Homo sapiens: one gene and its partners. The gene in region 4 interacts genetically with the main gene of each other region. Each region holds a gene or a part of one and is shown on either strand. Other genes may lie near its edges.

The links.
Region 1: changes in SREBF2 (region 4) and PELO together harm fitness less than expected from each alone (positive genetic interaction), as found in Homo sapiens cells (one large-scale study listed by BioGRID).
Region 2: changes in SREBF2 (region 4) and TMEM278 together harm fitness more than expected from each alone (negative genetic interaction), as found in Homo sapiens cells (one large-scale study listed by BioGRID).
Region 3: changes in SREBF2 (region 4) and PTCHD1 together harm fitness less than expected from each alone (positive genetic interaction), as found in Homo sapiens cells (one large-scale study listed by BioGRID).

Annotation. Positions count from the first base shown.
Region 1 is NC_000005.10:52,794,416-52,797,915, forward strand, and holds part of PELO (protein pelota homolog), read left to right. Parts: intron 1-3,500. UniProt on the Homo sapiens protein: Component of the Pelota-HBS1L complex, a complex that recognizes stalled ribosomes and triggers the No-Go Decay (NGD) pathway.
Region 2 is NC_000001.11:1,424,602-1,428,670, reverse strand, and holds the start of TMEM278 (transmembrane protein 278), read right to left. Parts: upstream 2,801-4,069; 5' UTR 2,544-2,800; coding exon 2,286-2,543; intron 1,118-2,285; coding exon 884-1,117; 3' UTR 1-883.
Region 3 is NC_000023.11:23,383,349-23,386,848, forward strand, and holds part of PTCHD1 (patched domain-containing protein 1), read left to right. Parts: intron 1-3,500. UniProt on the Homo sapiens protein: Required for the development and function of the thalamic reticular nucleus (TRN), a part of the thalamus that is critical for thalamocortical transmission, generation of sleep rhythms, sensorimotor processing and attention. Can bind cholesterol in vitro.
Region 4 is NC_000022.11:41,874,605-41,878,104, reverse strand, and holds part of SREBF2 (sterol regulatory element-binding protein 2), read right to left. Parts: intron 2,769-3,500; coding exon 2,654-2,768; intron 2,563-2,653; coding exon 2,381-2,562; intron 877-2,380; coding exon 684-876; intron 164-683; coding exon 1-163.

The DNA of each region.
Region 1 (3,500 bases), on a different chromosome or scaffold from region 4:
TAAAAATATCTGTGTAACACATTTTACTTATAATATTTTTGGTGAAATGATCTTATGCCGTATAAGAATACATGCAAATAGAAATACACACACACACACACACACACACACACACACACACTTCTGTTCATAGGATTTTGTTTATTTGGTAGGAGGTTTTGTATTATTTTGTGACAACTGCAAGTAAGCACTTTCCATCATGAGAAATTTAGATAGTGAGTGAGTACAAGTTCCTTAAAAAAAAAAACAAATAAAACAAACAAAAAAAACCACTTTCCCTTTTACCCTTTTGTCTATATTAGCTAACTAATCCTCCCAGTCATCCACTTAGCTTTGCTGGTGGAGGTCACATGGGAACCTTTGCACAATCTGAGGTTTGCACATTCTCTCTAAATAAACAATTGCGTTTATCACTAGATATTCATAATTGGAGCTCTGGCTTCTTATTTTGTAAAGTTCACTTTCCAAACCATGTATAATAAAACTAATTGCCATTATGTGTTATTCTAAAATATTTTAAGAACTTTTCCTGGGGAAGATGTATTTTAAATTACCATTTTCTTACCTAAGCACGGCTATCTCAAATATTGAAATAGGCTTATACAAACTTACCTTAAGAGTAACCTTCTTTTTAAGTTTTTAGTAACATTATAAAACAGAATGTGATTTCCTAATTTTAGAATGTCAGTTACAGACAAGTTAAAAACTCTGAATTAAAGAAAAATTAATAACCATTAATTTTTGCATACTAAAAATATGAGTATGTGCCACTTGTTATGCTGTGTTCCAGGAGAACAAAGACAAATAAAAGGTAGTAAGTCTCTGCCTTTACTGGTGGAAGAGGTAGTAGACATGGAAAGACACAATGGTGGGAGAGGCTCCCAAGGTGCTTTATAAGGAATAACAAAAAGATTAGGTTTGTGTTGCAGGAAAGTAAGCCTTCCAAAATAAAATACAAGATGAAAACAAGAAAATTTATACAGCCCCGACTGTTTAAGGGTCACAAGCTAAGCAGAGGGTATTAAAACAAGATTTCCATCTTTCAGGAGCCCATAATTCCATTTCATGTCATACAAACCATTTCTTTTATATTATTATAATAGGAAAGATAGTAATTCAACTCACCAATGAGGTCCATGAACCATTTTATTCAGTAGAGCTGAATAACATAAATAACATAAATAAATGTACCCCAAAGATTATCCATCAGTCAACTCTACCAAACCAGTTATTTTTCCAAGGCTGAATAATTATGATCATGTTAAAATGAGCTCTTGTCCCTTGTTTTGTCTGATCCAGTTTTCTAGCTTCAAGCCAGGCATTTTTAGAGCTCTATAATTTATTAATATCAAGTATCATAATATCACTAGGACCTCATAAGGATGGTCAAATGAGAGAGCAGGACAAATAATCTTATTTATCATTTAGAATGAAAAATAATTAGCTTTATTGCGGTCTGGGACTTATTTCAAGTTGGTAGAATCCATCCAGGAAAGACCATATTTGAGGTCTGCCAATTCTTGGTCCACAAACAAGAAACTTTGAATCAGTCTTTCACCTCTGAAATGGGTCTTAGAAAAATCAGATTTGAAAGATAGCACGCAAAATTGAAAACAAATATGTTAGGATGAGATTATAGGTGTTGTTTAAACACTTAAAAAATATTACTGCAGCATAATTTTTAGTTAGAAATTTAATTATTGAATTCAATTCCCTCAATTCTTCAGTGAAATAAATTGGGTTCCAGAGAGACTGAGTACTGCCAAAAGTTACAGTAAAAACAATTGAAGAGTAAGAGCTACAATCCAGGATGCTTGACTTCTAGCCCAGTTCTCTTCTTGAGACACTGGAAGTGTCTCAAGAGCAACAAATTAAAAACTTTTGGAGGTAACAATACTTTTTTCCCCTTCTGGAGAGATTAATATAAATAAGACATTGTAGGGAAAATAGATATAATTAAAGTTACTGATATAAAGATTTATACTGATATAAAGTTACTGATATAAAGTTTTCTATTTTAAACAGCCAATACATAAGTATAAAATTAGTATTTAAAGCAAAAGAGCTAAAAGCCCTGGTATTTTTCTCAATACTTTGCTCATTTGGAAAAAAATGAAAATAAATATATAACTACAGCAGTTTCTGAACTACCATTATTAAGTGAAATACAGTCAATAACAATATAAGTAAGTGCCTTAAGAAATGTCTTGAAATGTCTGTAATAATGTTAAAATAGCTGCCATACTTTACATTTGACTCACCTAGCTTATCATTAATATATGAGTGCCTACTATGTGCAAAGGACCTTTAAAAGGACAAAGGAGTATAAAGATAAATCCTTCCAGAGTTCAACAAAAAAGATACATGTTTAAATTAACATGGATTCAAGTTTACATGGTTTCAAGTTTGAGATAACATTTAAGCTGGACTTTAAAGATAGGCAGCACTAAAGGAAGCAGGGATGAAAGGAAGTGACATTTTAAACAGAGAAGTTAGTATGAGTTAAGGTAGCAAACGAGAAAGTTCCTAGCATATGTAGGGAACAAAGGTTACTTTCAAGGTGGAATATAGGGTGCCCTGAGGGGAAAAGTGGGAAGTAAATTTGTAAGGCCAGTGCAAATTGGGATTGTAGACGTTAATTCATAGGGAATGGGAATCCAAAATGAATCAAAATAAAAATATAATGATTGGTCTAGAAATACTAAGCCATAAACAAAATCTGGGTGAAAACATCTAATAGTCAACTACAGGCTTAAATTACTAAGGAAAAAAAAAAGTTCCCAACTATTGCAGTTGTTTCACATACAACAGTAATTCTATGAAAGATTTTATAGTATACTGAATTATGGAGGCACACTGATATTTTTTAAAATGGCCCAAAGTGGTTTGCCTCATAACTTAAAAAAAAATTTTTTTAACCATGGATTTAAGAGTCAATAAGGGTTTTTCACAGGTTTCTAATGTACAGATAAATATATGTATATTTTTCTAAAGTAGAACATTAGATCTTTCTCTAAGAGTATGATGATGACCTAGGCTGGACAGAAGGAAAAAAAAAAACTATGTAGAAGAGAAAAGTATAATAATTTTAAGAGGTGATAAAAGAGCAGGAAAGGGACTAGTGCCTTTCAAATCCTCTAGGTTGGTTCCCAAGCTGTGAGTTTTTGTTTAGCTGGTAAAGGTGACAGTTGAGGGGAAGTGACAGTGGATAATAGCACATAATTTGCAGTGAAGGAGATGATTACAAACATTCATAATATAGGATGGTGGTAGTAGAAAGAGAGGGTATGGAGTTATGCAGGCCTGAATTTCAATGCTAGTCATGTGATCTTGAAAACATTTCTTAACTTCCCCATAGTTGATTTTCTTCTATAAAATTAGGATAACAAATATTTACCTTACAGGGGAGAATTAGAGCATAGGAAAGAACTTGATAAACATTCAATACGTGATAGCTCTTCAATAAAAACCTTTTGTTAAGATCCCACTGTGTGCTTACC
Region 2 (4,069 bases), on a different chromosome or scaffold from region 4:
CAGATTAGACGGAAGGGAGTAATTTGATGAGGGGGTAAAAGAAAATGGTGAGGATATGGAGAAGGAATTCGTGGTGAAACTGGACACAATTGTTGAGGGATTTCCAGAGCTGATGAACGTTGTGGACCTGTGGCTTACACCAAACAGGGTGGGTGTGAGCTCGGCACAGCTAGGACGCGCTGGTGAGACCAAGGAACACCAAAGTCAGTGAGGAGATCTTAGTGTCTCCCGGAGAGAGCCGACCGAGGCTGGCGCATGTCTGAATGCGAGCCTGGCCATAGGCTGAGCCCGGCTGCCGCCACCCCTGGGCTTCTGGAACCCTGGGCTTGGCCGAGCGTGGGTGTCTCCCCTGGGAGCCCCAGAGCCCTGGACGATGGAGGCCGGGACCTGGGCAGGCGCGGGAGGCCTTGGGCTGGGGCCTGCGCCCCTCCTCTGAGGGCTGCCTGCCGGGCTCTGCCCTGCCCTGCCCTTCCCTCCCCTCTCTTCCCCTCCCCTCTCCTCTCTTTCCCTCACCTCCCCTCTCTTTGCCTCCCCTCCCCTCCCCTCCCCTCTTCCCCTCCCCTCCCCTCTCTTCCCCTCCCCTCCCCTCTCTTCCCCTCCCCTCCCCTCTCTTCCCCTCCCCTCCCCTCTTCCCCTCCCCTCCCCTCCCCTCTCTCCCCCTCCCCTCCCCTCTCTTCCCCTCCCCTCCCCTCTCTTCCCCTCCCCTGCCCTCCGTGGCGGGGGCGGGGCTGCGGGCGGGGGAGGCCGGGGTCGTAAGCCGGGAGCGCTGCGCGCCCAGCCAGGAAGGGGCAGCGGGGGCGACCCTCAGTTTTCCGGGCCGGGCCACGCGATGGGGTCGCGCGCGAGCTCGGAGGCCTCCCGGGGTTTCGCAGCGGCCGCCGGGTCACACCCAGGCGCAGAGTTGCTCGTCCTCGTCGGGGCGCCCCGGGGGGCGGCGGGGTCCGGGGGTCCCAGCGGGCGGAGGCAGCAGCGGGCGGAGGCGCCGGGCTAGGCGGGCGCGGACGGCCGAGGCGAGCACCAGCAGCGGCGGCAGCGAGAGAAGCCCGAACACGATGAGCGCCGCGGAGCCGCGGTCTGAGAACAGCGCGCGGCACCGGGGACCCGGAGCGGGGTGGACCTGGGGGCCGGGCGGGCCGTCAGTGGGGGGCGGGGCGGGGTAATGGAGGGCTGGGGGCAGGGCAGGGTGATGGAGGGGAGGGGGCTGGGCAGGGTGATGGAGGGGAAGGGGAGGGGTGGAGAGGGGAGCGGGCGGGATGATGGAGGGAAGGGGGAGAAGAGGGGAGCAGGGCAGGGTGATGGAGGGGAAGGGGCAGGGCAGGGTGATGGAGGGGAAGGGGAGGCGCGGAGGAGAGGGTGTGGGTGGGTCAGGGTGATGAAGGGGCGGTGAGGGCCGGACGGTGAGGGATGGATGGGCGGGAGCAGGGTGGAGCGGGGAGGGGAGAGAGAGCGGGGTGGAGGAAAGGATGCAGGGCCACGGCAAAGGGAGACGGAGGGGTGCAGGGCGGGAGAGAGGAGTGGGCGATAGAGATGAAAGAGCGGGGCGGGGCGGTAGAGGGGCCGTGGCGGGCTGAGCAGGGCGGGAAGAGGGAGGGGGGAGATGGAGGGATGAAGGATTAGGGCCTGGGCGAAGGAGAGGCAGGGCGGGGAGAGGGGAGGGGGCGGGCCGCTGTGGGCCAGGCAGTGCTGAGGGGTGAACAGGAGATCCGGGACGCAGCAGGTAAAGGGCTGAGCAGGGTCCCTTGAGGGGAGGCTCAGAAAAAGCGCCCACTGCCGCGTTCTGCCCGCTTCTGCCCTCCTGCGCCCTCTCATCACCAGCTGGCGCCAGCCCCCGTGCCAGCAGAAAGGGGCCCGGGGCCCAGAGCAGGCCACAGCCCACTCTGCAGGTGGGGAAGCCCCACGCTGGCAGGAGGGCCTGGGAGGGGCCTTGTGTGTTTGGGGAGGGGCTGGGGGCTGTGGGTTAGTGAAACTTCAACGACATTTTCATCTTCTTTTCCTGGAACCCCGTTCTCTCCCCACCCCCACCCAGCTGTCCAGGCCCTGGTGGCCCCTGGTACAAGGCTGGGAGGCCTCAGGGAAGGGACAGAGCTGTCCCTTGGGTGAAAAACAAAAGCTCTTCTTTGGCTGTGGCTGGTGGGGGTGCTTGGGAGAAGGGGCTGCCAGGGAGGGGCACACGTGTCTCTGAGGACAAGGGGCAATTCTGGAAGGGGGCACAGTGCCTTCAGACCCAGGGCACGCCCACTCCCCAGGACCCCAGCTAGTCCCCCGCCCACGGGGCACAGGCTCACCCTCGAGTGGCACAGGAATCCCAGGTAGACGACGGCGGCCGCGGGCAGGAGCACCAGCAGGAAGGCTGCGGCGGGCAGCAGGAGGTGCAGCAGGAGCCCGGCCAGCAGCCGGCCGGGCAGCAGCGGGGGCCCCGACCACCCTGGGCACGTCAGGGCTGAGGCCTGGTGGTCGGGAGGTCCCCGGGGCAGCATGGGCGCTGTGTCGGAAGCACCACCTCCCCCCTCCTCCTCCTCCGTCTCCCTCCCCTGCTCACTCATGCTCCTGCCACTGCAGGCCTGTGGCCCGGGCGGTGCTCAATGCAGAGTGGTGCTCTCCAGGGCTGCCCTGGAAGACCTTTAACCCCGCCCCACGTTGCAGCCAGTCCACATCCCCCAGCCAGACCGTGGACCCTGGCTAGGGAGGTCCTGCCCTGATGTCTGTCCCAGAGCCACACCCCCACCTCAGTTTCCCCTCTGCCAGGCAGCTGCAGCTCCAGCAGCGCCAGTCTCCAGCCCCAGCCAGCTCCTGGTGCTCTGGGCAGGCCTTGCAGGGCCCTTCCCACCGGGGCCGCCTCCCTCCCTGTGCCGGGCGGGGCTGCAGCTCCCCCACACAAAGACCTCATTTCAAAGGGCTTGACTCCGGTAGCTGCCCCATCAGTAGCTGCCACCTGGAGGCCAGCCCCCCACCCCCTGTCCCAGCCCCAGCCCCGCTGCTCCCTCATCTGAACACCTTGTCGGTGTCCTCCGCCTGCGTCTCAGAGTGGATGAGAGGGGACCTGGGATGCGCGTGAGCCGCAGGGTGTGGGGCCCGTACACGGCAGGCACTCAGCAGGCTGCCAGGGACCACAGGCACCCTCGCGTCTGAACCCAGCCATCCCGAGCAGAGGAAAGGCAGATTTTCCAGGACAAGAACCTGTGTTCCATCATTTTTTTTTTTTTTTTGGAGACAGTCTCACTCTGTCACCAGGGCTGGAGTGCAGTGGCACGATCTCGGCTCACTGCAACCTCTGCATACCTGGTTCAAGTGATTGTCCTGCCTCAACTTCCCTAGTAGCTAGGACTACAGGCGCTCACCACCGCGACCAGCAAATTTTTGTATTTTTTTTTAAGTAGAGACGGGGTTTCACTGTGTTAGCCAGGATGGTCTCGATCTCTTGACCTTGTGATCCGCCCACCTTGGCCTCCCAAAGTGCTGGGATTGCAGGCGTGAGCCACGGCGCCCAGCCCATCATTTCTAGTCAGGGGCAAAACTTTTCCCATCCAAAACCCCAAGCATTTTCTCTGAACGTTACTCCCGACTCTGACTTTTTTTTGAGACAGGGTCTCACTCTGTCACGCAGGCCGCAGTACAGTGGTTCAATCACGGCTACGGCAGCCTTGACCTCCTGGACTCGATCAGTCCTCCCACTTCAGCCTCCTAAATAGCTGGGACTACAGGCACCTAACCACCGCGCCCGGCTAGTTTTGGTATTTTTTGTAGAGATGGGATCTTGTCACGTTGCCCACACTGGTCTGGAACTCCTGGTGTCAAGTGATCTGCCTGCCTGGGCCTCCCACAGTGCTGGGATGACAGGCATCAGCCCCCGCGCCCAGCACAGTCCCTGACGTCTGTCCGTCTCCCAGGGCTTTATTGCACGTCAGCAGTTCCAGCTCCATTTTCTTTTCTTTCTTTTTTTTTTGTCGAGGAGGAATTTTTTGCTCTTGTTTCCCAGGCTGGAGTGCAATGGCACGATCTCGGCTCACTGCAACCTCCATTTTCCAGGTTCAGGCAATCCTCCTGCCTCAGCCTCCCGAGTAGCTGGGAT
Region 3 (3,500 bases), on a different chromosome or scaffold from region 4:
CAACAAACTGAACATTGTCAGTGTGATTCTGGTCACATAGGCCAAATCCAGCCAAATGCCAAAATGACACTAGATTTAGAATGGAAAATTTTAAGATCACATGTGTCAAGCAGTATTAACCTGACAAAATTCCAGAAGAGGAAAGAATTTGGATAAACTCTTAAGAGTTCACCATAATGGGATGTGACTGTGTGTTTCTAGCCAAGATGATATGTGACAGTTCTGGCAATAAGAATATATCCTACACAGATGAATCATTTTGGCAATGATGTAAGCATAGATACATCATGATTTAGAATGTTTTTAATCAGTGTTGTGCATACTAGACAATCCCACTTCTGCCAAAACCTCTGTCCAGATGAGTCATATCAGTTTATTTAGAGCTGAAATCCTAAAAGGTCTACAGCGTTATAAATGTTCATCGACATTTTTTAGTTACTCTAATTTGGAGAAGAGTTTATTTGGTCTATACCCTTATCGTGCATAAAATAATAACCCTTTCCAAATATATTGATATCAAGTAGTGAGTTACTTGAATTGCTACTTGTGAATATATGATGCTAATTATTTTAATCTGTGATGGAATTTCCTTTAAAGGATGAAGATTTACACCATTATTCTCCAGTTGGGTATGATTTTTAAAATTAGCATAGGTTTTCTGTGTGCAAGCTCTCCTTACAGGCTTAATGTTTCAACAGCTTTGCTGATCAGATACAAATCAGGAAAGGGATAGAATGTTAGATGATGTAGAAGGGAACCAAAAGAAAGTTTTCTCCCTTCTGCATCTGGAAGGTTTGTTGCTTCATGTACATCCTGTACAGCTAAAAAGGAGAATTGAAGTCGTAGTGAAAGAGTTCGGATATTAGTTTCTACATGCAATCTAGTTTATAAAGGTTGCTTTGCATTTATCAAGATACAAGAGCCCCAGAGATTTATGAGATAAAAAATACTCTTTAAGCCCTTTTTCAAATGTTTGGGATTTTGAGGTCAGATGTCAGATCCAGGGTGTTCTCTTCCTTTTGAATTATCCAACCAGGCCACTCAGATTCAAGGACGTGAAAGGAAGAAAGAATTAGTGGATTATTTCTAATTTGCGGATTAGTGCTAGGAAAAGAATAATAGCAGGGAAGTTTGGCTTCTTTTAGCTGTGCATTTTAACATTATTCATATGTAGCAGAAACCAGAAGATTGGGTTCCATTCTCCAAGAATTTGCTCTCATATGATGCCACTTGAAATATAATGCAGTATATGGAGCTCATAAAAAGGGAAGGAAAAAAAATTCTCATGCAAAACATTTAGTTCCAACTGAAACATTGAAATTCTTATTTTTTCTCTAAACTTAAGCAAACCTGAAAGAATTTGCTTTCCTGATGAGTATTCTGATACATTTCAAAAGTCATGAGAAAATGAGGGAAAAATCAGTCAGATAATAATAAAATTTAAACCATATGAAATTGCAAATATCCAACCATTTTTGGCCTACAAACTTGGTACCATTATCTGGTCATTTTTGAGCTACAAAAATGGTAATTTTGTGTGGTTCAGCCTAACACATTATTGTAGAAATCCATTATTTGCAACAATATGACAATTTTGCCTGATGGAGTAGAAGTATATTAGAATGCTATGGAAAGACTTTGCTTAGATATAAATCAGTAATAGGTTCAGCATGTTCTAGAGAAAACAACTGATTTATGAGGGTTTTGTTGTTCACATTTTTGTGTACATCTATTTTTTTAAAAGAGATCATTTATTTTACAGTATTTCCAAAGTTTGTCTCTCGAATATCGTTTTTTGTAATGGTCCATGGTCATTATGGGACTAATTTACAAGGAGATTATGTAATTTAGGCTTGTAATTCGTTCTTGCCCTTTTATTCTTATGCTCCACCAATCATATTAGGGTGAGAGTAGGTGGAAATAAATAGGTTTAGGGGAATGGAACAAAACAAGTTTTATTGTTCTATTTTTAACCATAAAGTAAGACAGGAACAGGACTTGGGGGCACAAGTCCAGGAAAGCAGAACTCAGTCAGAGGAATACAAAGGGGCTTTGTCTTTGACCCAGGATTCCCAGATATCCCCTGGGTGGTCTGTCTACCCGGTCGTGCCCAGGGAATGAGGGAGTGACAGACCCTGTAAAGGTTGGGCAGCAAGAGGCAACATCAGGACACTGAACTAAACATAGACCCTGGGGAGAAATACCTAGTATCTACATTTGGACTAAACTCTCAGAAAGTCACAGCTGGGCAGTCTTGACCAGATGGATATACAGAAGCTCACAACCGAAACAGGTTCACAGTTATTGTCAAGGAAACCCTGCATTTCACCAAGGCTACTTTATTACTCAAGAACCAAAATATAGACAGATGGAGCCCAACAGAGGGATTCTATAGCCCCTTCTCTACACTGATTGGTGTAGCAACACTAACATTATTTTGCCTCATCAGTAAAATAAATTTCACATCAGCCTACTATTCATCTTGTGTGTATGTGTGTCTTTATAGCCTATGTGCATAATATATATTATATATCACATTAGCTGTATTATATATCATATGCAATATGATATGTAGTAAGCTCATGTTATGTATTTATATGTATACAATGTGTTTATAACATATATTATGTAATATATATTGCTTGAATATTTAAATAGAAGCTATTCTCTGTGTATACTATCTGGTATATAGGAGTCCAACATTTTGTATGTAAATATATAAAATATATTTGAATAGGATATGCCATATATACATATGTTTATATATCACATTTGTATTCTATACGAAAAGAAATTAAGCAATGACCATAGCATATATTATGGGCCACATTTATACTTATACACACTGGTCTTATATAATGTACATACACACAATATCTAAATACTTTAAACAAGGAAGAGCTATAAGCAAATTCATTTCTAGGGCTCTCTTTTACAGCTATCTAGTGAAGAAAAATCATTCCTAAGACTAAAACCCAATGCTCTGGTTAGAATTTTCAAAATGTGACAAGTCTCTAGTACAAAGAATAAGATGTGTGTGTTCCCCCTGATGTGAGCATCTGTCTTTACTTAAACAGAGTACACCTTTATTCTTACTCTTAACTCTGAGACAAAACAGGCTGCAATAAACCAAACAATTCAGCTTGTAAAGTAAATGTTTATAACTGGCAAAGTGTAAATGTAACCCAATTAATAAACTTCTCCCTGAAAATAGATGTTACTCAACCCAGACATATATACACTTTAAATTTCTTCTCAAAAACACAAAAATCATGAATTTATGTGGATGACATTGAAAAACAGGCATCTTATAAACATGAGCTACTTAGTGAAGCTTTTCTAAGAATAAAATAGGCTTTAAGCAGATTTTGCTTATGGATTATAGTCTCTGAATTTTTGAGACGAATGTAGTAATTTTATTTCCATATATGAAATTTGGCACTGCCCAGGCATGCTATAAACAGCTTCATTGACTCATGATATTAAATGTTTTCACACTG
Region 4 (3,500 bases):
GCCTGTTTCCGGTGCCTCCAGAAGGTGACCGAGGAGCGCGAGTGTGGCCGGATCACTGGCTCCCCATGAACCAGCAGCTTCACAAAGACGCTCAGGACAATCACACCATTTACCAGCCATAAGAGAAGAGTAGGCATCATCCAGTCAAACCAGCCCCCAGAACCTAAGAAGGAGCGTCTCAGCAGAGTCTGCTAGGAAAGGCCTTGCGGAGCAGCCAGGCACCTGACAGACCCCAGCACTATCACAGGAAAGAGTCTTCTACCTCATTTTCAGAAGAAAGGGCAAATAATTCTATAATCTAAACAGGGCTAATGACTGTAGCCCTTCTCATTATGGAGCTGAGTGCCATAAAAATCTTTGTTTTGAAAGGGTTGAGGCATTGGTTTTGCAACCTCAGATAAAAAACACGATATCCTCCTTCAAATAGGTACCACCCCTCCACCCCAGGGTATTTAGAGTAGTGTGGGTCCCTGATTTGTTTTGCTCATTCTGACTGAACTTGGGCTTGCCTTGTTACTTCTAAAATGGAACTTATGCCAGTCCCTATCAGAAGCAAGCAGGTGGGGGCCCACTATAAAAGCCCTTTGGGACCTGGTAGCCAAGCCAAGAAGTTTGTACACAGGGTCCTTCTCCTGCCATAGTGGTCCAGCCATGCCCAGGTGGGGCAAGGGGCCTCCACCTACCTGACTCGAATGACAGGACACTGCGGCCAGAGCCTGAGTGTGGGTGCTGGTCAGAGTCGTGGGCCCCTCCCCACTGCAGCAGGGAAGTCAGGGGGTTAAAGGAGAGGCACAGGAAGGTGAGGACACACAGAAGAATCCGTGAGCGGTCTACCATGCCCAGCGCCACAGGAGGAGAGTCTGGCTCATCTTTGACCTTCAAAACAAGGCCTCGAGGTTGGAATAAATACTGCATAGGTTTTTACAGCACTTTATAAATACATATATATATATTGAGAAATGGTTATGAGGTTTAAATTCAAGTCGATTAACTCAGGACTAAGGCCAGATGGGAACTGAGAAGCCTATAATTCACTAACTGCTGCTCAAACATTGGCACATTCACCTGCTTGCTAACTGAGAAAAGTACATGTTCCAAAGAACAAAGGTAGAAGAGATTTTCTTTTAAAATAGAAATCTACCACAAAAGAGAACACACTGTATGATTCTGTTTCTGTATAATTCCAGAACAGGCAAAATGAATCTAAAGTAACAGGAAACCAATGAATCAGTCATTGTCTGAGGCTGGAGAGGGGTGTGGGAAACTACCTGCAAAGGTGTACAAAAGAGCTTTTTGGGGTGATGGAAATGTTCTATATCTTGATTACAGTGACAGTTACATAGCACTGTACATTATGTTAAAACTCTTGGTACTGTACTTTTAAAGTAGGTATATTTTATTGCATTTAAATTACACCTCAATGAAGTTGATCAAAGACCGTATTTAGTGTGAATCTATCTAAAGGATTTTACCTGTTCTAAAACTGTATCATTGTCTACACCCACCCCACTCTCCATTTTACAGCAGGAGGGCTGAAGCCAGATCTCCCCTGCGCCCCAATGTGTATATAGCATGTCATTTCTTTTCAATATTTTAAAACCATTTAAGATTTTCTTCTGATGACTCAGAAGCCCAGCTAATTCAATTTATATGTCAAACAGCCTGTTGTTGCCAAACAGAACCACATTTATAAGAATATTTCAAAAATGGAGCTTCCTTAGTAAAATTAAGTATATGATACAATAAACAGCTTAGTCAAAAACAAACACTAGGAGGGAACTTTGTGCTTTCAGAGTCAGAAACTGCCGAAGTCAAAATACAGTACAAAACCCAGTGGTCTCTACAGGTTCCCAGGAAGATCATTAGGCTCAGAGCGTCTCTTAAGTAATTCCATTAAACTACCATTGCCAGGGGCTTTGACGATTAAAGGCCCATAGGTAAAATGTTATCTGTTAGACTGCAAATTGTAATCATTTCTGAAAAGAGGACCCAGAGGCAGCCTCATCCTAAACCAACTGATCAGCCTCCCAAAGTGGTCTTGCCAGGCCCATTAAAGGCAGAGTGAAGCAATGAGGTGCCTCCAGCAGCTCCCAACGCCCCCACAACAGCTACTCTGCATTCTCGTTCTGGATCTGGCACTCATTCCTCTCTGACGGGGCCTATCGGCAAGGACCAGTTAAACCTGAGGGACTGTTTCCCCCCGGAGTCAGTTTTTTCTTTCTTTATTCTCCAGGACCTGGCTAATTTCACAGAATTCCTGTTTTTCTCCAGGCTAGGCCCTCTTAACATGCGGCCTGGCCTCATAACTGTGACCTCCCAGCTATCTTCTTAGGGGAAATGGGAAAGATTCCAGGGATCAGGAGATTTCAAAAGTCTGTACCTTTGCATCATCCAATAGAGGGCTTCCTGGCTCAGAGTCAATGGAGTAGGGAGAGAAGCCAGCCTGGGACCCTGAGTCAGAGGCTGGGGGGGACATCAGAAGGACATTCTGATTAAAGTCCTCGATCTTCAGGTCCACCTCATTGTCCACCAGACTGCCTAGGTCGATGCCCTTTAGAAGCTCTGCAAAGAAAACCCCACCTGGTGAAAATGATCTGCTTTTACAAAGCCCCACCTGGGCCAGGGCTGACAAGCCTTTTCTCAGCACACTTACTGTTCTTTTGATTTGCCAGCTTCAGCACCATGTTCTCCTGGCGCAGTTTATGATTGACCTGCTGCAAGTATTTGATGTAATCAATGGCCTTCCTCAGAACGCCAGACTTGTGCATCTGGGTAGGAAGATGAGTGAAAACACAGTGAGACCAGTGCAGGCTACAGTGTGAAAAGAGCAGAGCCCTAGCACTTGGGATGACAGCATGGCTCTGTGAGAGGAGAAACCAAGTTCAGATGCTGGTCCTCCCAATGATTAGCTGTGCCACTCGGGAGAAGTTATTCCATACCTCAGAACCTCACTTTCCTCCTCATTAGCACAGAGATAATGAAAGCGCGTGAATCACAGGCTTGCAGCAGGGCTAAATGAGATAATGAGTGTAAAGGGCTTAGCCCTGAGCCTGGCAAATAGTTGACACTCAATAAATATTAGCTATTGTTCCCACTTCTTATAATAATCCTAGCACCATAACAAACTTTAACGAAAACAAATGAAAAAAACAACCACAGCATTGTTGGACAGTTATCTTTTTTTTTTTCTTTTTTCCAAGACAGAGTTTCACTCTTGTTGCCCAGGATGGAGTGCAATGGCGCGATCTCAGATCACTGCAACCTCTGCCTCCCAGGTTCAAACAATTCTCCTGCCTCAGCCTTCCAAGTAGCTGGGATTACAGGCACCTGCCAGCACGCCCGGCTAATTTTTTGTATTTTTAGTAGAGACGGGGTTTCACCATGTTGGCCAGGCTGGTCTTGAACTCCTGGCCTCGTGATCCACCCGCCTCAGCCTCCCAAAGTGCTGGGATTACAGGCGTAAGCCACAGTGCCTAGCCTGGACAGTTATCTTAAGGCAT